4 separate regions of the Homo sapiens genome follow, and all the other regions are linked to region 1. The links come from fine-mapping of genetic effects on plasma protein levels. A gene starts in region 1. Each other region holds a variant in brackets. All regions are shown on one strand. Distances are between the middles of the regions.

Evidence for each region. PIP is the chance, under the fine-mapping model, that this variant and not a neighbour inherited with it causes the effect. The UK Biobank Pharma Proteomics Project read protein levels with antibody pairs (Olink). The fine-mapping took linkage between variants from a reference panel, not from the people measured, so its PIPs are less certain.
Region 2: its variant is fine-mapped to the plasma level of the CRTAC1 protein (UK Biobank, PIP above 0.99). The variant lies in the coding sequence of CRTAC1. If it changes the protein, the assay may bind it differently, which can mimic a change of level.
Region 3: its variant is fine-mapped to the plasma level of the CRTAC1 protein (UK Biobank, PIP above 0.99). The variant lies in the coding sequence of CRTAC1. If it changes the protein, the assay may bind it differently, which can mimic a change of level.
Region 4: its variant is fine-mapped to the plasma level of the CRTAC1 protein (UK Biobank, PIP above 0.99). The variant lies in the coding sequence of CRTAC1. If it changes the protein, the assay may bind it differently, which can mimic a change of level.

The regions. Positions count from the first base shown.
Region 1 is chr10:98,028,734-98,033,877 of GRCh38, reverse strand. It overlaps CRTAC1 (cartilage acidic protein 1), which reads left to right and starts at 3,257. Exons shown (of 15, transcript NM_018058.7): 1 at 3,257-3,429. The coding sequence starts at 3,406.
Region 2 is chr10:97,920,458-97,925,601 of GRCh38, reverse strand. CRTAC1 (cartilage acidic protein 1) reads left to right here. Exons shown (of 15, transcript NM_018058.7): 4 at 2,202-2,338. Among named protein-coding and RNA genes, the nearest start is that of MIR3085, 47 kb to the right of the region's middle. The variant C/T (reference allele first, on the strand shown) is at 2,237.
Region 3 is chr10:97,863,452-97,868,595 of GRCh38, reverse strand. It overlaps GOLGA7B (golgin A7 family member B), which reads right to left. Exons shown (of 5, transcript NM_001010917.3): 3 at 4,514-4,666; 4 at 4,327-4,428; 5 at 1-3,006. The coding sequence ends at 2,896. CRTAC1 (cartilage acidic protein 1) reads left to right here. Exons shown (of 15, transcript NM_018058.7): 15 at 2,882-3,596. The coding sequence ends at 3,048. Among named protein-coding and RNA genes, the nearest start is that of MIR3085, 9.9 kb to the left of the region's middle. The variant G/A (reference allele first, on the strand shown) is at 3,034.
Region 4 is chr10:97,877,457-97,882,600 of GRCh38, reverse strand. CRTAC1 (cartilage acidic protein 1) reads left to right here. Exons shown (of 15, transcript NM_018058.7): 14 at 2,209-2,352. Among named protein-coding and RNA genes, the nearest start is that of MIR3085, 4.1 kb to the right of the region's middle. RefSeq lists a silencer at 1-109 and an enhancer at 1-597. The variant G/A (reference allele first, on the strand shown) is at 2,238.

The DNA of each region.
Region 1 (5,144 bases):
GAAGTCTGTGGGGGAACACTCTGAAGAAAAAACAACTTCACTGGGGTCAAAGGACTGGAGCCTGAACAAGATGCATGGGGTAAGGGTGTGCTGAAAATGTGTGTATTAGTCAGCTCAGACTGCCATAGCCAATACCACAGACGTGGAGCTTAACCACAGAAGTTAATGTTCTCACAGTTCTGGAGCCTGGAAGTCCCAGATCAAGGTGCTGGCAGGTCTGGTTTCTGCAGAGGCCCTGCTCCTGGCTTGCAGATGGCCTCCTCCTGTTACTCAGGCAGGCTTTCTCCTGAGGATGCACAGAGAGAAATGGGAGATCTCTGGTATCTCTCTCTCTTCTTACGAGGACACTAGTCCTATTGAATTAGGGTCCACCCTTATGATCTCATTTTGCCTTAATTGCCCCTTTAAAGGCCTTATCTCCAAATGCAGTCACACTAAGGGTTAGGGCTTCACTATGTGAATTTGGTCCGGAGAGGCACAATTCAGTCTATAACCGTGTGCATGTGCCTCAAGAAAGCTGTGTTTGGGCAATGTGGGAGGACAAGAGGTCTCTCACGGGATTGGGGGTGGGGAAGGGCTGGAGCTCTGAGCAGACACTGACATGAACTGAGCAAATGGACATCGAGGACATCAGAGAAATGAGAAATTTTCCAACCAGGACTGCCTGGCCCACTGGGCTAAACCCTCACAAGTTCAAGTGCTGAAGCCAGATTGTATTCCCTGGAGCACTTCCTGGCTGGAACATCTCCATCATTTCCTGCATTTTTCTGTCCTTCCCTAGCACCTTTGGTCTGTTGTAACCTTACCTGGCTAGCTGCAGGAAAGTGTGAGATTATTACAGAGTTATTTTGCACAGAGCACCTATTCACATCTGGTTGGCTAATGCTGATAATTACCGTGCTGGTTACTAAATCTGTCGGGTCTGGGTGAGGTGAGGCGCTACAGCTGGGGCTGCTGTGCACAGCTTCACCGGAGAAGAGAGAGGTGAGAACAAAAACCAAGAAAGGTGTGCTCAGATGTTTGGGATTGAGTGAAACTGGTTAATTACCAGTCACTTGCTGTCTCCCTGAGTTGGAGTTTCTGGCTAAGGAATGCTCATAGATCAGACATAATATGACAACCTGCAACTTATTTCCACATTAAGAGGGTGGCGGGGACCAAGATGCAGAGAAAGTGTGGAGACAGTCTCTCAGGTGCCAGAGCCTTGGCCAGATGACTCAGATGCCCTCAGAACAAGGTGGTGGCATGTTCCAGCAGGGTGCAGAGCCAACTGGACTCCTTATGCAGAGAGCTGGGGATCAGATATGGCCTTGGGGGCAGAGTCTATTTGCCGATAGATGAAGGTTCTTAATCAGGGCCCTAGATTAAGTTTTAATGATCCACGAACCCTCCTAAAGTTGCATGTCAACATGTGTGTATGTGAGTGAGCATTTTTATAAGCAACAGATCCATAACATTTATGAGATTCTTGAAAGGTTCTAAAGGGTCTGTGATCCCCAAAAGGAGGGTGATTATAAACTACTGTCCTAGACCCCTGAAGAAACAGGTTGACATTGGACCGAGCCCCAAGAGACTCAGGGTTCCTAATGATCCTGAAAGTATACTCAAGGTGTGTGTGTGTGTGTGTGTGTGTGTGTGTGTGTGTGTGTGTGTAAATGTGTGTGTTTGTATATTTTTCTAGAAAAATGATTCAGTAATTTTTGCCAGATTTTCAAAGGGGCCCACAACCTTACAGGCTTGATGGGGGCTCAAAAAGCCAGAAAGTTTGTCTGTGCCTAGCTATTTCTTTTCAGAGGAAGATCACAGAGACCTGAAAACAGAGCCCAGACTAGGTCCTGGTAGTTCTGCTCAAAATCTGTGGATAACAGGGGCCAGAGGCTGGATGTGTGGCCCTCTATAAAAGAACACATTCAAATCATTCTAAGAGTCAAGGGCCCAGAAGCCAGACTAGTGGGTGATGGTCACAAAAGCGTCAACGGATGGGAAAACAGTCCTAGCTCCTTCCCTCTCCGATGGTGGATTCCCAAGTCTTTCTCTTCTGTGGCCCCTTTACCTGGCTTTCAGAAACCCAAAGACCTCACTCATGGAAGCTCAGAATTCATTCAATAAACACTGAGCGCCTACTATGTGCCAGGCTCTATTCTAGGCGTAAAATAAAGGATTTGCCTTCAGAGTGTGACCCACCAAGGCCAGTTTCCTGCCTGAACAGGGGTATTTTGAGCATTGCTGATCAAGTGTGTTTTTCTGGCGCTTAGCACCCCCATTCCCCTGGTCCAGAGAGGCAGAAACCATCCCCCCACCACCACCAAGGCAGCGGGTTGGGGGCGAGGAGAGGCGGGCAGTACCTGTGATCAAAGCGGTGAGGGAGGCTAGTAGGACGCAGGCGGCAGGAGCGGGTGGGCCAGGCCCGACTCGGCCACTGCTGGGGTAGGGACTAGGTGGGATGGGGTGGGGGCACTGCTGGTGGGGACGGGGTGGGGTAGAAGCGGCGCTGCCCGCAGCCGCCTGGGCCTCTGCGCGCCTGATCTCCGAGCTGCGCTCGCCCGCTCCCCGCCTGCGGGGGCCGTCGCGGAGCCCTGCTCTCCATACTGAGCAGTCCCCGGGAGGTGCTCGGACACGTCCCCAGGCTGGATAAAGATCGGCTCGGCTCTAGCTCCGTAGTCGAAATCTCGCCATCAGCGCGGCTCGCTCGGCCGCTTTGGCCCGGCCCGGCGACGCCAGATCGCTATCCTGGGGGGAAATGGGAAGGCAGTGCAGCCGCTCCCGCCTCCACCCTCGGTCCTGCGCGCAGGGGTGGCCGCGGGGTCCTGGGGCTCGCCGCCCTCCCCTCCCCCTTCGCGTTCCTTCCCTGCGCTGCCTCCCGAGGGACCCTCGCTTCCCTCCGGCCTGGGGCCCCCAGCGCCCAGCCAGGCGCCCTCTCCCCTCCTCGCCAGGCCTCGCTGCCGCCTGAAGGTTACGCGACGCAGTGGCGGGGCGCGGGGGGCGCCCGCCCTCGCCGCCGCCTTCGCCGCCGCCCACCCCAGTGGCCGCCGCGCCGCGCCGGGCCAGCCTGGCTGCCGGCTGCTGCCACCGCAATCCCGGCTCCTAAATCAGCGCGGGGAGGCGCTCCCTCCCCACGCCCGGCTCTCCGGGCTCTCGGGGCCGCGATTGGCCGCGCCGGCGCCCCCCACCCCGGGCCCCCGGCTCCAGCTGCCGCGCCATTGGCTGCGGGCCTCCGCCAGCCTTTACATAAGACCGGGCGCGCTCGAGTGGAGTTGTATAAAGCGAGCGCGCGGCGTCGGGGCGGGAGGCTCGAGGCCAGCCCGGGACCGGGGCTGGGAGCAAGCAGGCGGCGGCGCCGGCGGCAGAGGCGGCAGCGAGCGCCCGCTTCCCACGCCCCTAGGCGGCGGGGCCGAGAGCGGGAGGATGGCTCCGAGCGCTGACCCCGGCGTGAGTATCTGCACCGGTGCCCCCCACCCTAAGGCGGAGAAAGTTTCTCCAGCTCTGCGCGCCCCCCCGGATCCGCCCGCAAGGGTGGCGGGGACGCCGCCCGGGAACCCGGGAAGACTGGGATCGCGAAGGCGGCGGCTTCGCTCCTAACTTGCTGGGAGGCGCTGGACTCGATTGGCGCGCGGAGCCTCCCCCGCGGGCTGGGGGTGAGGCGGCGGCCGGGTTGGAGGTGGCGGAGAGGTGGGAGCTGATGTGTGGGGGCGACAGCCAGCAGCTGGCAGAGAAAGTGTTGGGGGCGCACTGGAGGTCAGCTGTCAGGGGAGGGGGCCTCTGGGGCCTGGAGGGGGCGGAGCGGGTGAGGAGGGATGTGCCGGGCTATCGGGAGAGTCTCCCAGTCAGCCAGGCTGAGACCCGGGCCTGGGAAGCCACTGGCCTCGGCCGAGTGCCTACGCTTCCAGGCTGGGGAAGAGCCCCGCGGGCTGGCTCTTCCTCCCCTGGGAAGCCGAGTTCCCGGGCACAGCGCTGGGTGGCAGAGAGCTCCGGGAGCCAGCCCCGCGCGCGGCGTAGCTGCTAGCCGCCTTATGCTGGACGAGGTGTGGTCTTCCCTTCAGGCTGCCTGAGGCAAGCCGGCTTCAGGCATTCCAGGGGAACCCTGAGTCCTCCTCGACCCCGTGGGGGCACTTGGAGGCTTTGATGGGGCAGCCAGGCCGGGCTTGGGGGCATGCCCAGCAATGCAGCGCGCTTCTTTGCAGTACAGTAGTTGGGAGCCCTGGTTAGTCCCGCTTCTGCAGAAAGCAACTCAAGAATCCAAAGTCATCCCAGCCTGGATGGAAGCCTCCCAGAGTGGCGGGGAAATTCTCCTAGGGTTGAGAGCTGGGGGGGCTTCCTCCAGGAATGACTAATGAATATTGCTGCTGCTGCCGCCGCCGCCGCCGCCGCCGCCGCCGCCGCCGCCGCTGCTGCTGCTGGTGGGTGCACCCAGTGTGGCTTCTGCACATCCCAGGAGATGCTTCCGTTCTCCTGACAGGACACATTCTTGAGTTGCACTTGAGGTGTCTTCTGGGATGGGTGCAGGACTTTCCACGTGAAGCCAAGTGGAAAAGAAGGGAAGAGGGTCCCAGGACAGGGGACAGTTCTATAGTGTTTTCTTGAGTCAGGGGAGAACTCATGTGGGAAGAGATAAGCGATTGACGGAGATTTGGAACCCAGACGACTTGGGGCTGGAGATGTCCAAGACTGAATTAGAGCTCATTGAGAGTCACAGAGTACCTCACCCTCAGCCATGGGGGAGAGGTGGAGGCTGGAAAAGTGGGAACATGGTGGCTGTTCCAGCATGGTTCTTGAGAAAATGTTCTCTCTCTCTCTCTGACTTGGTTAAGAACATCCTTCTGGCAGTAGGTCCTAAAGTCAATTTAAGAGGTAATGAAGGGAGTTGAGGGTCTTGATGATGGCACAGAGGACCACAATTAGAACATTTCCATTTCCGGTGGGTACTAATGGACTCTGGAAAAGGTCGAAACGGTGTGTAGGGAGTCTGGGGAACCTGCTCTGTGGCTGCTCATTTGAGCCTGAATCCTCCACCTTATCCCATCCCTGAATGTAGGTGGATGTTCAAACTCCTAGGGTACCTGCTTCAGCCTGGAGATATTTTATGGGTGCTATCAATCTATATCCCAACCCCCAGCTCCATCGTTGTCTGCTGCAGTCAACATTTT
Region 2 (5,144 bases), 110 kb after region 1:
TCTCACACTCTCATCCCCACTCTCACACTCACTCTCACTCATCCCCTCTCAACACTCACTCTGACTCCTTCCCACACTCACTCTCACTGATGCCCACATTCTCACTCACTCATGCCCACTCTCTCACACTCACTCGTTCTTGTCCACTCTCATTCTCTGACACACTCTTACTCTCGTGTACTCACCACACACCCTCACTCACACACCCACTCTCATGCTGACACACACTCATTCTCAGCCATTGTCTCACTCTCACACCTACCACTCATTCTCATGCTTACACTTTTTCTCACGCACTTGCTTTCACATACTCATACCCTTTTCTTTTTTTGAGACAGGGTATTGTTCTGTCACCCAGGCTGGAGTGCAGTGGCACAATCACAGCTCACTGCAGCCTCTACCTCCTGGGCTCAGGTGAGCCTCCTGCTTCAGCCTCCTGAGTAGCTGGGACTACAGGCATGTGCCACCACACCTGGCTAATTTTTGAGGGGGAGGGTTTGTAAAGATGGGGTCTTGCTATGTTGCCTGGCTGGTCTAGAACTCCTGGGCTCAAGTGATCTGCCCGCCTTGGCCTCCCACAGTACTGGGATTACTGGCATGAGCCACTGTGCCCAGCCCACTCACACACTCTTACTCTCACTCATGCTGGCTCTTACTCCTGCATACTCTCACTCATTCACACATCCACACACACATTCACTCTCACAATGCTCACTCTCGCTCATGCTCACACTCACATACTTCCCACCCTCACACACACCCACTCACAGAATCACTGGTTTTCACCAAACCCCTGCAGTGCAGGGCTGATGTCTCTAAAGAACCTTGGAAAGTAGTTCATCTATAACATGAGAAAAATCATTCCTGTCGAAAAATAGCTACCACTTTGGTGGGGGGACCATCCCAAACCTTTAATGTGCATCATCTCATTTATTCCTCACAGTAAACTTGACTGTAACTACTGTCATCCCCACTCACAAGTAGGAAAACCGAGGCTCAGAGATGCTGGGCAGCATGCCTCGAGTCTGGAGCCTAGAAGTAGAATCCAAGCAGAACCAACACTGGGGCTCCAGATCATTTCCATCACCCTGAGCTCTTGGCCCCTGGGCCCCTGTGCCATGCTGTCTCTCCTCAGTCTAAGCCTGCTGCCTCTTCCCTGGCCCAGACAGTCAAGTTCAGGGTTCTGTCCCCAAGTCCACTCTTCCTCAACCTCACCTTCCCCAATTCCTTCAGCTGCTCCTCTCCCTGTGTTTCCTGTCCAGCCCAGGGGGTAGAACGAGGACCCCCCTAAACTACGAACATTCGGGGTCTTGCATTAACAAGAAATTAACTAAGGATGATGGCGGAGGAGAGACCTCTGCCTTTCAAGTGGTCACTTGAATGGGCTTGAGACCTCAGCAACCAGCAGTTATTCCCTCTTCTCCAGAACAAGGCTTCTTAGTCACGAACGAGCTCCAGAAGGCCACAGACCTGAAATGATGTATGGCATGTTGTGTGGTGTGCAGACCTGCAACTCCCTGAGCTGAAGGTCCTTCACCTCCCTCCAATTCTCAAAGGGGCCAGTAATCCAAAAGAGGTGAAAACCACTGCCTTCTGGGGCTCCCCAGTCCTGGGACCAGGGGCCTCCCAGGGCTGCCCAAACTCATCACACCCCAGGCAGAACAACCCCTCATTTCTCACCCCATCAGAGCTCAACTTCCAGCCCCTTCCTCAGGGTGGACTGAGACCTACCCATGAACCAGAACCATTTCTTCTGAGACCCAAATCAGGTAGGTCCTGCGATCCAGTAGAGAATGTAGGGACAGCGCCTGGAGAAAGAGCCATCCTGGGTTGAGTTTGGATGTTGCCGTATTGCAGTCCCAGGAGCTCCTTGATGCTGTTGCAGGAGCACGGGGCAGGGCATGAAATCCAGCTGCTGAGGGTCATCTTGGGCACACTGCAGCAGTGGCACTTCCTCCCTAGTTCCTGAGGCCTGGGCCAGCCATCTTCATGAGGCTCAGAGTCTCTTCCCTCAACTGGAAACATGTGAGTGCTCCCCAAACACAGAGGAGTCTCACCTGCTTGAGGTCTTCCTTGCCGCAGATGACCCAACCTCCTCTGGTCCCAACCACCTTGTGAAAGGTGCCATGAGACATACCCAGAGATCAGAACCAAGACCCTGATCCACTGTCCACCAGCCCTCCCTTTCCTCCTCTCTCCAGGGGTGGCCACGTACACCGACAAGTTGTTCAAGTTC[C/T]GCAATAACCGGTGGGAAGACATCCTGAGCGATGAGGTCAACGTGGCCCGTGGTGTGGCCAGCCTCTTTGCCGGACGCTCTGTGGCCTGTGTGGACAGAAAGGTGAGTGCAGGGGCACATGGGGTCCTGGGGAGAAGCCACATGAGAGCCAGGAGAGGAGCCACTGTGTAGACGTCCCCTGACAGAGTGGCGTCTCCCGCGGTGTCTTGGATAGATTGGGTGCTAAATACCAACAACTAAGACTTGCAGAATGCATTCCTATGTACCTTTCACATCCTGTCTCCCATGCAGCCCTCCCAGAAACCAGTGAGGAAGCCAGCCAAGGGATCATTGTGTCCTCGGGACACTTGTGGGGATGGAAGCCTAGCTTGGAGCAGTGACTTGCATGGGAGCCCAAAGCAGATGAGTGGTGTGGCTAGGACATGAACCCACCTCTTCTAGCTCTAAATCCTGCCTGTATTCATTCACTCAACTAACATTTATTAAGTGCCTCCTGTGTGCCAGGCACTGAGCCGTGGGGCCCTTCATAAATATTTACGGAATAAATGAAGGCACAATGGAGGGGTTCCTAGATGGGTGAAGGGAGGGTTGCCTCAATATACGAGTACTTTAGTTCATCAATAGCTCCTCCAACGTTTTCATGCTCTGCAAGTGCACCCTACACAGAGGTGCCCCACCCAAACTGGATGGGGAGGAAAGACGGAGTGGGAAGGGGCATGAGCCACTGCAGCCATCTGCCCGGTGAGGGGGCAGCCGCCCACCCAGGCTTAGGTCCCAGCAGGCCTCGCCAGAGCCAGCAGCTTGCTGCAAAGGTGATTTATCCCTCCTGTCACCTGCTCCCCTGCCACCCACCTCCTTGGCTTTGTAAACAGTCATCACTAAATCAGGGGCCCAGCTGCTGCCCGGCTGCCACAGGAGTGTCTATGGCCCCCATTCTGGGGGCAGGGGCAAGAGGTTTGGCTCACTTTGGGATTGAGATGGCACCGAGGGGATTGGGGATTCAGTGTGAATCTTTACAGCAGGGGCCTCCAGGCCTTGGGAGAAGGCAGGTGCCAGGTATAAATATTTATTTCTTAACAAGCTGGCGCTGGGAAGAGAAGCCAAGCTGGGCTGTGAAGCCACATTTAGCCTGACCTGAATCTGTGCCACCTGGACTCCTGCCTGGTGGGAGTAGATGGGAAGGCAGCTCTGTGAACAGCCCCAGAGTGTGGGGTGGAGCTGGGGGGTGCCAGACCTGGTCACGGTTAGGGGCCTCTTCCCAGCCTCCTCCCGGTTTCCCATCTCACCCGTTCAGGACCAAGGCTTTTGACACTCAGCTAACGTGGGCAACTTCTCAGAGAACTGGGGGGAGAGGCATGCAGGTTAATCACAAAGAGATGCACTCTGTCCTAACAAGGTCATCTGCACACCCACGCATTTAACCACAGGACAAAGGCACTATGTGAAATGAAAAAAAAAAAAAAAGATGACCTGGCACTGCAGCACAGGAGGCAGGCGTCCAGAAGCTTGCTCACACCCTGCTTAGCCCCTGACTTCAGTCTCCCAGGCCTCAGAGAACTAGAAAGAAGCCCTATGGTCAGTCTGCCAGCAGAGGAGGGTTGCTTTCTGAGTCCAGCCACCACCTTGGCCATCCCTGGGGCCTGAGGACTGCCAGGGGAGGAATGGAGAGAGGCCAAGGGCAGCCTGGAAGTTGACAGAGAGGAATGCAGCATGGTGCAGGAAAACACGAGAGCAAGGACAACAGTAACAGCCAACACCTCTTACACTAGGGACATGCCGAGCCTTATGCTGCATGCTTTAGCTGCCTCGTCCTACTGAATCCTCATAAGACACCAATGAGGTAGATGCTGTCACTATCCGATTTGACAGATATGGAAACTCAGGTTTTGAGAAATTAGGCAACTTGACCTTGATCACACATGAGGCAACAGGCAAAGCCAGGAATTGAACCTTGCCTGCCTGAAAATGAAGATGCCTTTTTACCTTCCGCCTCCCTGCCCCTGGGTGAAATGATAGCAGACACAAGTTTCTAACTTTATTATAGCACTCACCCTAGTCATCCTTCCATAGCCCCATAGCCCCTACCTGGGGCAGGGCCTTTTAATCTAGCTACCTGGTCAGTGGATCTCAGTGTAGCCTCTGGGCCAGCAGCAGCAGCATTGCTAGAAATGCACATTCTCAGGCCCCGCCCCACTCCACCCTCCAGACAGACTGAATCAGAAACTCCAGGGGTGGGGCCAGCAATCTGAGGTTCAGTTAGCCCTGCAGGTGACTCCAATGCATGCTGAAGTATGAGACCTTTTGCTCCATAAATGCCTCAGCCCCGCCCCCACTCTGCCATGTGCTGTTCTCTCTCTCTCCCCTTCCACCCCTCACTCATTCTCTGCTCCAAACCCGGAACATCCACTTGTCCTTTCTCACCAGTTGCCTCATCACTCACCCACCTTTCTGGATCCAGCTCAAAGCTGATCTCTTACAAGAACGTCCTCTGATCAATAATGATTATGCCTCATTGTTTATATAGCATTTTTATCTTTTCAAAGACTTTTCACATACATTGTCTCATTTCATCTTCTCAAGAACCCTGCAAGGAAGCAGGGGGAGTATGATCTCCATTTAACATCTGAGGAGATGCAGCCTGGAGGCAGCCAGGGATTTGCCCGAGGACGAGGAGCAGTTAGGGGCAGGCCCTAGACTAGGACCCGGGCTAATGGCCCTGGACCAGTGGTTCTCAAAAGTGTGGTTCCCAGACCAGCAGTGTCAGCATCATCTGGGAACTCGTTAGAAATGCAGATTCTCATGGCTCACGCCAGACCTGTTGGTCAGAAACTCAGGGGATGGGGCCAGATGTTTAAAAAAAAAATCTGTGTTTTAACAAGCCCCCCAGGTGATTCTGATATAGGTTAAA
Region 3 (5,144 bases), 170 kb after region 1:
GGCTGCACACAGCTCACTGCAGCCCTTAGCGGCAGTGACAACAAACATGAGAACCACCCAGAGGGGACTGCCCAGCCCCCACCTAAGAGGCTGGAGCCGTTGTCCCCACAGTCTGATGAGCCCCTCTCTGGGAACAGGCCTGAGTTTGTGATCCCAGCCTCCCTGCAGCCTCAGGCAGCTTCCCATCTGGGTGCCATCCCTGTGGTAACAGAGTGGGCACTGAGTCAGGAGACCTGGGTTCCAAGCTTGGGCCCTGTTATCATCAACCAGCTGTGTGGCCTAGGGCAAGTCACCCACCCTCTCTGGACCTCTGTGACAGGATTCAAGTGATCTTTAAATCCCCTGCCAGCTCTAACATATGGTTTCAGCAAAGTATCTGGCACATAGTAGGTGCTCAATAAATTATAAAATTCAAGACACAACTCTGCTAGGTTCCAACATCCAGCTACTTTCTCCATATTTGATCTTGGCCAAAAGGCCGAGAAGTGATCATCCAGCTACTTTCTCATCTTCAGTACTGAGTGACCTGTGTGATCCAGCTCCCAACAGGACCCAACCCAGGGGAAGAGCTCAAGAAATGAGGATTTATTGATATCATTAATTGATTACTTTTGGCCTCGCTTTCAGTCCAACCTGTTCCCCCACCCAAGGCTACAAGTGCCCCAAAGATTCCAGATTAGAGATGCTGAGGTGTCTGCCTCTTCAGTAGACTGCAAGCTCCAAGAAGACAGAGTTCATCCTGCTCCCCATGTCAGGTCCAGTTCAGGCAGCTGAGTATCCCCTCATGTGGTCCTGGAGCATAGAACTGACCCTCCATCGTCACGGGGCAGAGAAAGCATCACAGAGCTTCACGCTGGGCAAGTTCTTTTATTGGAAAAAGAAAAAAAAAAAAAAGGCCATAGCACTGCCTGTGCCCAGCCCTCCCATGGGAGATGCACAGGTCAGACACAATGCCCAGCCCCACAGGGGCCCAGGGAGGGCATAGGCCGTGGCCAGGGGCTGCGGTGGAGCCCACTGAACTGCGGCTCTCCAGGGGGATCCTTGGACCAGGACTCACTTGGGCCGAGGACTTCCTGAGGCTGCAAGGACTAGGCTGACTCTCTCTGGTCTCTGGGTAGGCCCTTGTATCCTACATGCTGCTCCCATGTCTGGTAGAAAAGCAGGCCTCTCTTTGACTCCAGAGAGCTACCTCCAGTGGCTGGTCTTGCACATCCACTTCTAACACCTCCCGCCAACTGAGATAGGCAGCCCCCTTCATTTCATCTTCGGGACACCAGCCCCAGGGGCTGCTCCCATCCCACCTGCTCCTCTGGGCCTCAGAAGCCGGGCATCATTGGCTGGACATCTCCTTTCCTTGCAAGGAGGGAGTTTGCCTTTCCCCTGCAGGCTGCTGGCACCTTTGAAGGTCCATGGAAACCTCACCTACAAAGCCTTAAAGAGCCCCAGCCCCTGGGCAGGCTGAACACACAGTGTCTGCAGCCCCGTTGTCTTGTCATGGGGAGCTGAGAGGGGGCACCAAAGGCCACCAAAGTTTGGCTCTTCTTTCCTAGAACCCCGGCTTCTCTTCCACTAGAACATATGCAGTAGAGTATGTTCCCTGGTAGCCCTAGGGGAGGGGCAAGGGGCTTTTGGACATTTACTTACAGGGGGTCAGGCTGGACCCACACAGGGAAGAAGTCACAGACCCTCAGGTAGCGAAGACAGCAGGATGCAGAGAAGCAGTCGTTGGCCTGGCAGCCAAGGGGAACACACAAACACACTCACACACACATGCACTCACCTGCATACACACACACTCATACACATGAACACTCATACACACATGCTTGTGCACACATGTTCATGCACATGCATGCACTCACACTCATATAAATGCACATTTGTGCACACGTGTGTGCACATGTACTCAGACACACACAGGTGTGCTTATAAATGTGTCCACATTCATACACTTGTGCACTGGTGCACACACATGCGCTCACACACGCGCTCACATACAGGCATGCTAACACACGCAGACTCACACATTTACGCACACTGCACTTACACACATGTGCACTCACACATACATTCACATGTGCATACACACAGGTTCTAATCTCAGGAAACTGGCTGTAGTTCAGGAGATTCAGGCCCCGCATGGCTATGTCTCTTCACGGAGTTTCCCAGACCCCCATATTACCTCCCAGAGCCCCAGGCTCTGTGCCCCCCAACCAGCACCTGGCAGCCTGCAAAGTCTCAAAGTTGGATGCTTCTCGCAAGGCCGAGCTGGCCTCTAGCTCTGAATGCAGGACAGGAAAGCCATAGGTCTAGAAGAGGTCAGGAGTGCGCTGAACAGCTCCCAACCACGGCACCCGTCTCCCCACACCTTGAATTTGGTGGAGGCAGGATCATAGACAGGCCGGGGCCCTGCAGGGGCATGAGAAGGAACAGATACTGGGAGACAGCCACGGGACGCAGGGCCCAAGGGAAAGAGTCCTGGTGGATATGGGTTTGGGATGAGGGGTCATGCAGTGTGGGAGTCCTCTATGTGGCAGGCCTCGGCCCCCCTCGCAGGGTTGGGAGAGGGGCTGTGGAAGAGAGGGGCCGCCTAGGTTGTGTTCTCCCCACCCCAGCCTTCCTAGGAAGATCTGTCTCTGTGTGGCCCAGACCAGCCCCATCGGGAAGGAAAAGCCCCCAGGTCAGGAAATGGACTGATCCAGACGGGGGTGAGGGACAGGGGGCATAGGTTGATGGCCCACAGGAAATATGAGGCCCGTCACCCTCCCTCCCACCCCGGGCAGCAGGGTGAGCCCAAAGAATGACTCAGAAGCGGGTGCTCTGGTAGCGCAGCCGCCGCAGGTCTGCAAGGCCCTCACTCCGGCCATACACCTCCCTACAGGGACTCTCGGCCAGTCACCGGGCCCCCGCCCCACCACCCCCACCGCTGCTGCTGCCACTGCCGCTGCTGCTGCCGCTGCTGGAGCTGCCACTGCTGCACCGGTCCTCGTAGATGGAGATCTCAATCTGGGGTCGGTGGTTAAGGAGAGCTGC[G/A]AGCCCAGCTGCTGAGCAGGGGTGGGACATGAACCAGCGGATGGAGTCCAGCAGGGGAGTGGGAAAGTGGGCTTGTGCTGCTGCCTAGACAGTAGGGATGTAAAGGCCTGGGAGCTAGACCCTCCCCAAGCCCATCCATGCACATTACTTAGCTAACAATTAGGGAGACTCGTAAGGCCAGGCCCTGTGCTGGGCACATAGCTGTGATCACAGCAGACAGGGTCGCTGCCCTGATGGCGCTTACATTCCAGTGGGTCTAATGACCATATCTTAGGACACAGATGTGCCCAGGGAGGTGGTGTCACTGCACAGGAAGTATGAGGACTTTAGTGTCCTGAGTTCAAATCCTGATTCAGGAACTCACAAAGCTATGTGACCTTACACCAGTCACTTAACTTGTTAGCCATCCATTATCGCATCTGCAAAATGGGGATTAAGAATAGAATCTTGGGGTTAGTGTGGAGATTAGATTAAATGTATGTAAGACACTTGGCACAAAACCTGGCACATAGTAAAGGCTCAATAAAAACAAGTGCCTCTCACTGGGCTTTGTCAACACGTGATTCTGGGTGTTTGTGGTTTTTTGACTCTGTTTCTCCTCAGTTTTCCAGTAAACCTTATTTTTTAGCAATTCTACTCGTGTTGCTGCTGCCCGGGGGGAGGGATTTGTGCACACCCAGATCACACTATTCCAAGTGGAGATAAAGTCAGCAGAACCACGCCCCACCCCCGTCCAGCCTCTCACCAGGACTGAGACCTTGGGGTAGTCACATCATTCTAGACCTCATGTCTCTCATCTGTGAAAGGAGGACAATGCGACCTGCCACGGGAGATTCCATGAGGATTGCATGAGACTGTGGACCTGTAAATGAATGTGGTGATTTGCATATTCCTGGAGGGGTCTTTGTAGTTAAGGGTGAGCCTGGGTGCAATTCCTGGCTCCCACATTCACCAGCTGCACGACTCTAAGCAGGTTGCTGGGAATAATCAGAGCAACCCACCTGGTAAGATTGTTATGAGAAGTACATGAATTCGTATTTTCAAAGCACTTCACATGATAGCTGGCATATTCTAAGCACTGATTACATGCAGCCCAACAAGTGCAAATCCTGAAACTCACAAAGCCTCCAATAACTTAGGGTGGTGGAGGAGGGCTGAGGACCACTGATGTGGGGAATCCTGGGAAAACCTGAGTGGAGGCCCCTAAGGTGGCCTCGTTTCCTGGCAGCCTCACCAGGATCTCTACTGGTTAGCAGTCCTGTGCCCTCAACACAGAATAGCCCAGAAGGATACAACCCTCATCCCACGCTCCACAGGGTCTGTAAGTAGGAGGCCTCGAGGTGCAAAGATCTTCTCATTCTGCTCCTGGATGTAGCGGGAAATCTTCTTGAGAACCTGCAAAAAGAGGAGCCAGACAAGGATGAGCATGCCACAGGGCAGCCCTGAGGGAAGGGATGCACGGTGGGGCGGGAGGGGCCACCTTCTCATAGTGGGTCTCCATGCAGAGGAAGATGAAGTAGGCCGTGGCGCAGGCCAGGCAGCCCTCGAGGTAGGAGCTGCCCCCAATCTTCTCAGCCTCTGCGTAAAATCCGTTGAGGGTCTTCACAGTCTCTTCAAAGAGCTGCCGCTCGATCTGGAGAAAGGGACAGAGCCAGGCTGCGGTTAGCCTCCCTGGAGTGTGCACAGTCACAGGTAGGGCTGGAAGTGACAATGGTGGGGCCATGTAGATGGGGAAGATGACATTGGCACACAGGCAAGACCAAAGAGGCTGCAGGCAGAGCCGAAAGAGCACTGGCCTGGGAGTCAGGAGACTGGGGGGGCCAGTCCAGACTTGGCCATCAACTAACTGGCTGAGTGACATTGAACTAGCAGCTTAACCATCTAGGCTTCAGTTTCCTCATCTATAAAATGGGAATAAGAATGGCTGCTTGTCCTCCCTTGGAAACAGGAAATTCCCATGATATCCTAGATGTTTTCTGCAGAAGATCAAACGAGTATTCTAGTGACTTTGACACGTCCCATCTTGCTGGTTGTGAGAGAGCTCAGGACTAGATTCATAGGGGCTCTCCATGTTTGGATGGGACTGCATGAGACTGCTTCAGTGAGACCTC
Region 4 (5,144 bases), 150 kb after region 1:
ATATTAGTGACCCACAGGCTGAATCACTGCGGTTCTGGAAACTGGCAGTGTTTTCCTGCCATGAGTACCGAGAAACTGCAGATGGGAAGGAGACACACCACCAACCTGGCACAGGGGGAATAGCCACATGCCATGGCCAGCAAGTCCATGTGGAGCAGCAAGCAAGGGGGCTGGCAGGCAAGGGTGTGCATTGCCAAGGGCATTGGGGCAAAATAGTGTATGGAGTGTGGTCACAGTGTGGAACGGAGACTGCAGCCTGGTGCAGTACTGGGGCAGGCAGGTAGCTGCAGCACTACCAGGATGGCAGCTCCTTGACGGTCCAAGAACCTTCTGAAAGTCCCCAAGAGCCTGGAATGGGAAGGGGCAGCCTAGAAGTTCAGTGTCCAGGAGACCTTCACCCCCAACACTTTCCATCCCAGTGACCAGCAAGGAGGGGTCAGGCCAAGGATCCCTCCTTCCTTGAACCCTCATCCAGCATTCTTCCCAAGTCTACTCTGCAGCTGCTCATTAACCCTTTGCTACTGAGATACAGGAGTAAACAAGACAGATACCACTCTCAGGAGCTGAAAACCAATGGAGAGCCACAAAAGTAAACAGCTGTCGACCACACAGTGTGATCAGGGCCCAGATGGGGGAGGGCAGGGGCTTGGAGATGACAAAGCAGGGGCCCTAAACCAGCCTAGGGAGGGTCCTAGAAGGTGCCCTAGAGAAAGTGAGGTCCAAGCTGGGCCCTGAGGAATGAGGAGCAGTTCGGCAGTCACAGAGAGGGGAGACATGGTTCTGGTGGGGGGCACTGTCTGAACAAAGGAGCACAGGTGGGGAGGTGGAGGAGCAGTGGTGCCAAGGGTGGCTGGAGGAGGAAATGACTCCCCTACACTCTCCACATGCCCACCCAGCCCCACTCCAAACACATAGTGCAGGTGCATAGAAATTCCAGAGTCTTCTCTGCCTGCAGGAAGGACCCTTTGAGATCAGCCTCCTCTTCCTTTTCATCGCCCAACAGGCAGTTATGTGCCTCGTACACAGCAAGTGTCATGCTGGGAGCTGGGGATGTAGGCCAAGTGCCACCCCCGCGCCTCCACAAGAGGGGCATCCATTCTAGTGGAGGGAGACAGACCCTGAACGCATGACCACACACCTGGACAAGATGATTTCAGAACCCTCTGAGCAAGGTGCTCCCTGGAGACTGTTCCAGAGAGAGTGGTCAGGGAGGGCCTCGGGGGGAAGACTCTGAGCTGAGACCTGAAGGATGAGAAGGATCTAGGCCCAGAAAGAGTTGAGGGAAGGGCAGGAGTGAAAAGCGGGAGACAGGACAAAGGCTTTGTGTGTTGAAGGAGCAGGAGGGATGCCAGTATGGCCTGGAGATGATGGAGAGTCCATGAGGCCCCTGTAGGGAGTCTGAATTTTGCTCTTAGGAGCCTTAGAAGCTAAACTGGGGAGTGACATGATGTGATTCACATTTTTAAAGGCTCCCTCCAGCTGCTGAATTGCAGAGTGGATTGGAGGGAAGAGGGGAAGCCAGGTATTCTGTGAGGAGGCAGCTGCAGAAATCCAGGCAAGAGGTCACGATGGCAGGAAATTGGGTGGTGGCAGAGGAATGAGAAAGAGGTGACAGAGAGAGGTGGACTGGTGGACTGCGGGGCAGAGTGGACAGGCTCTGCTGTGAAATTGCACAGGGGGCAAGAAAGACGGAGAAATCAGGGGTCGCTCTGATTTCCCCTTGAGCAGCTGATTGATGATGGGGGTGTTGATTGAGCTAGAGAAGACAGAACAGAGGGCCAGAATATGGGCAGGGCAGGGCAGAATCTGGAGTTCTATTTTGGACATATTAAGCATGAGGTGCATCTTAGACATCCAAGTGGAGCTGTCAAGTAGGTCATGGGTTATTGTATTCGTGAGTCTGGAGCCACGGGGAGAGGTTGTGACTGGAGATAGAACTTTCGGAATCATCCATGCATGAAGAGATCACCTAGAACGATTGTAGTAGACAGAAGAGAGGACCCAGGACCAAGCCTGAGTGCCCACCCCCTGCCCCCAGCATGTAGAGACCAAGTACAGGAGGAGCCAGCCAAGGGAACTGAAGCAGGGAAACTGAGGCTCTGCGAGGAAGGCACATTCCCAAAGCCAGACAGTGTATAGGCAGGCAGAGCCTGGGCTGGTACTTGCTGCCCCACACCTTCATGGTGAGTGGTTCCCCTCGCCTTGCAGACACCAATGAATGCATCCAGTTCCCATTC[G/A]TGTGCCCTCGAGACAAGCCCGTATGTGTCAACACCTATGGAAGCTACAGGTGCCGGACCAACAAGAAGTGCAGTCGGGGCTACGAGCCCAACGAGGATGGCACAGCCTGCGTGGGTGAGTGGGGCCCCAGCCATAGGCCAGTAGCAAAAGGATGTTGCTTTCCACTGGGGAGCTCTGGGTAGGCCCCAGATCAAGGTCCCCAGCCCCTTCCTTCTCCTGGCTGGATAGAGTCTCCTTTGACCCATATTGGGTCTCCAGGGAAGACCATGACAGAGGCTTGGAGAAGCCCCATCACTTCTACCATCACCTGAAGGGCCAGGGGATGCTGTGTCCTGGCCTGAGGCTATCATTCTTCTTACTTTTCCTAAAACAACTGTTCCTACCTTGAGGTCAGCCCGTATTTTCATAGCTGGGATATAAACTAACTCCTACTACTCATCTTTGGCTGAATTTCTAAACTGGTAATTTCTTCTTCCCAAACTCCTTCCTCCACCCCCACCCCGTCCCCACCCCCTTTCTCTTTTTCCCATTTTCTGTCTCCCCGCCGCATCGTTTTTGCAGCTCAAGTGGCCTTTTTAGGTGGGTATTCTTCAGCCGCCTCTAGAATCTCTGAGCCTCTCTCTCGGGCCTCATATCTTTCTCTAGGCCTTGGACTTTGCCTTCAGTTATATGCACTTTAAATCCCATCAATAAAGGAAAAAACAAAACAAAACTAACAGCCTTTGTGGAAAACTAAATCTCTCTCCTGCTGCTTGTCTCTCTCTCCACGCCCAGTAGGTTCTGCTGTGTGCTCCCTCTGAATGGACAACAGGGGTGGCCATCTTTGAAAAGGGAAGGTTGGGCGATACTGACACAACCTTAGTTGTTTGTGAAGACTTTCTTTGCATGTTTTCTGAGAAAACAGAAAGGAAAGTCTCCAATACCCCATCCAGTCTCCCTCACTCCTTCAGAAGAATCAAGATAGTCTTGTATCCTCCAGTGTCTCGTGAGCTCATTATTTTGCCCTTAACAAAGATGGCTCCCAGGTGGTTGCTTGCCGGTTGATCCGATAATGTACCATGTGCCTGCTGGTTTGGCCTGTGCTGTTTCTGCTTTTTGCCCCTGACTTCCTGTGCTAGAGAAAGCCTTATTGGTGTTGGTGGTGGTGATGGGAGGGAAAAGGGTGGTCCTTTGGGACTCTTGATAAAAATGTTATCATTTGAACTTGCTAAGCCTTCCAGCCTCTTTTCTGAAGAAATTATGCCAATAAACTCTCTACTAGATATTAGTGCCAAACTGATGATAAAAAGGGTCTGGGGCAAGTAGAACTGATTGGAATGCTGAATTAGGAGCAGCCCTTCCACCATGAGATGCTTTGAAAGCAGATCATAACACAAAGCAGGTGTCACCCTCAGGCACCAGCAGTGGTTTGGTTGCGTACAACAATGTTCACATTTGGGGGACCAGGGTTTGGGCCAAGTGAAGGATGTGTGATGAGTGAGGGGCAGAAATGGAGTGTGTACTCTAGGCCTTTTACCTGCAGGAAGTCACTTCTCCATGCTGTGCCTCAGTTTCCCTAATGTAGATGACAAGAGAGTTGGGCTGGTATATCCCTAAGGGCCTTTCCTTTCTAAGACTCCTCAATGTCTGGCTGGACATAGGCCTGGCTCATCTCAGGTTACTCTGATTTCTAGAAAGAACCTTGCTACTTGGTCTCTGCAATCTCCTTGGAAAATAGAATGCTCCTGTAGCCAGAACACTCTTTGGAAATGATGTAACGCCACAGAATATGCTCACGACCAGCCTCAGTAGTGAAGGCTTGTTATAAAACATAGATCTATTCTTCATGGGGAAAAAAAGTCATCCCAGGATATAATAAAATTACACTTAAGAATGCAGCAACCCTTTTAAAAACATATTCAACAAAAAAAAAGCCCCTGCCATTTTCTGATATCATGGTAATACTCCTAATAAATCACAAAATATGAATTCCTTGTAGCTAGTGCTGTTTTTACACTTAGAACAGAAGCATAAATGAAAAGTTTTTAAATTAAAACAGCTACAATTTCCCTGAAAAGCAGACACCAACTTAAAAATCATTCCACTTCTAGAAAGCCCATTCCTGTGTATTGACATAGAACTAAAGATCTGAAAGGGCTCCAGAGATGAGGCTCAGAGAGCTGAAGTGTTCAAGGTCACTGTGCCCAAGGTCATGGAGCCCACTGCTCCCCAGGCCAGGGCTGGAGCCCTTTCCCACCACACCATCTTGTCAGAGGGTAACAGGCAGCTCTGTCACTGTTCAGACTATTCCCTAGTCCTTCTGGAAGCTGCTGCCTTTTAAAAAATGAACAAAGTGGATCTAAGATAGTGAGATAAGTAAAACCCAAAACCCATGGAGGAATGGTTCCAAATGCAGTGGTAAATGACAAGATAACAGAGCCCATTGACTGTCCATACACAACAGCACAAGAAATAAGGGACAAGACAACTACAGAGATGGCCTGCCAAGGACATCAGGGGGTTCAGGGTGACAGCAGACTTCAGATGATGCCTTATAAGTGACAACCATGAATGCCTTCACAATGAGTTTTATATAACAGGGTATATCTGTGTCATGTGATCCTGTTGGGTGAGTGGGGTCCAGTGAGTTGCAAAGAGGAGTTCTAAGTTCCCACAGCTGATAAGAGCACCACTGCAGCACTCAGACTCCAGGATAAGGCTTCCATTTGATTCATTCATGAGTTCAACAGATACTGATTGAGCACCTACAATGTGCCAAATATTTGGTTAGGCTCTAGGCGTACAATGGTAAATGAAGGTAACAATGGTAAGTAAAAGTAATATGTGTTGATCCCCTACTACTATGTGCAGGTACTGAGCTAGGCTCTAGGCATACAATGGTAAGTGAAAGCAATATTTGTTGAGCC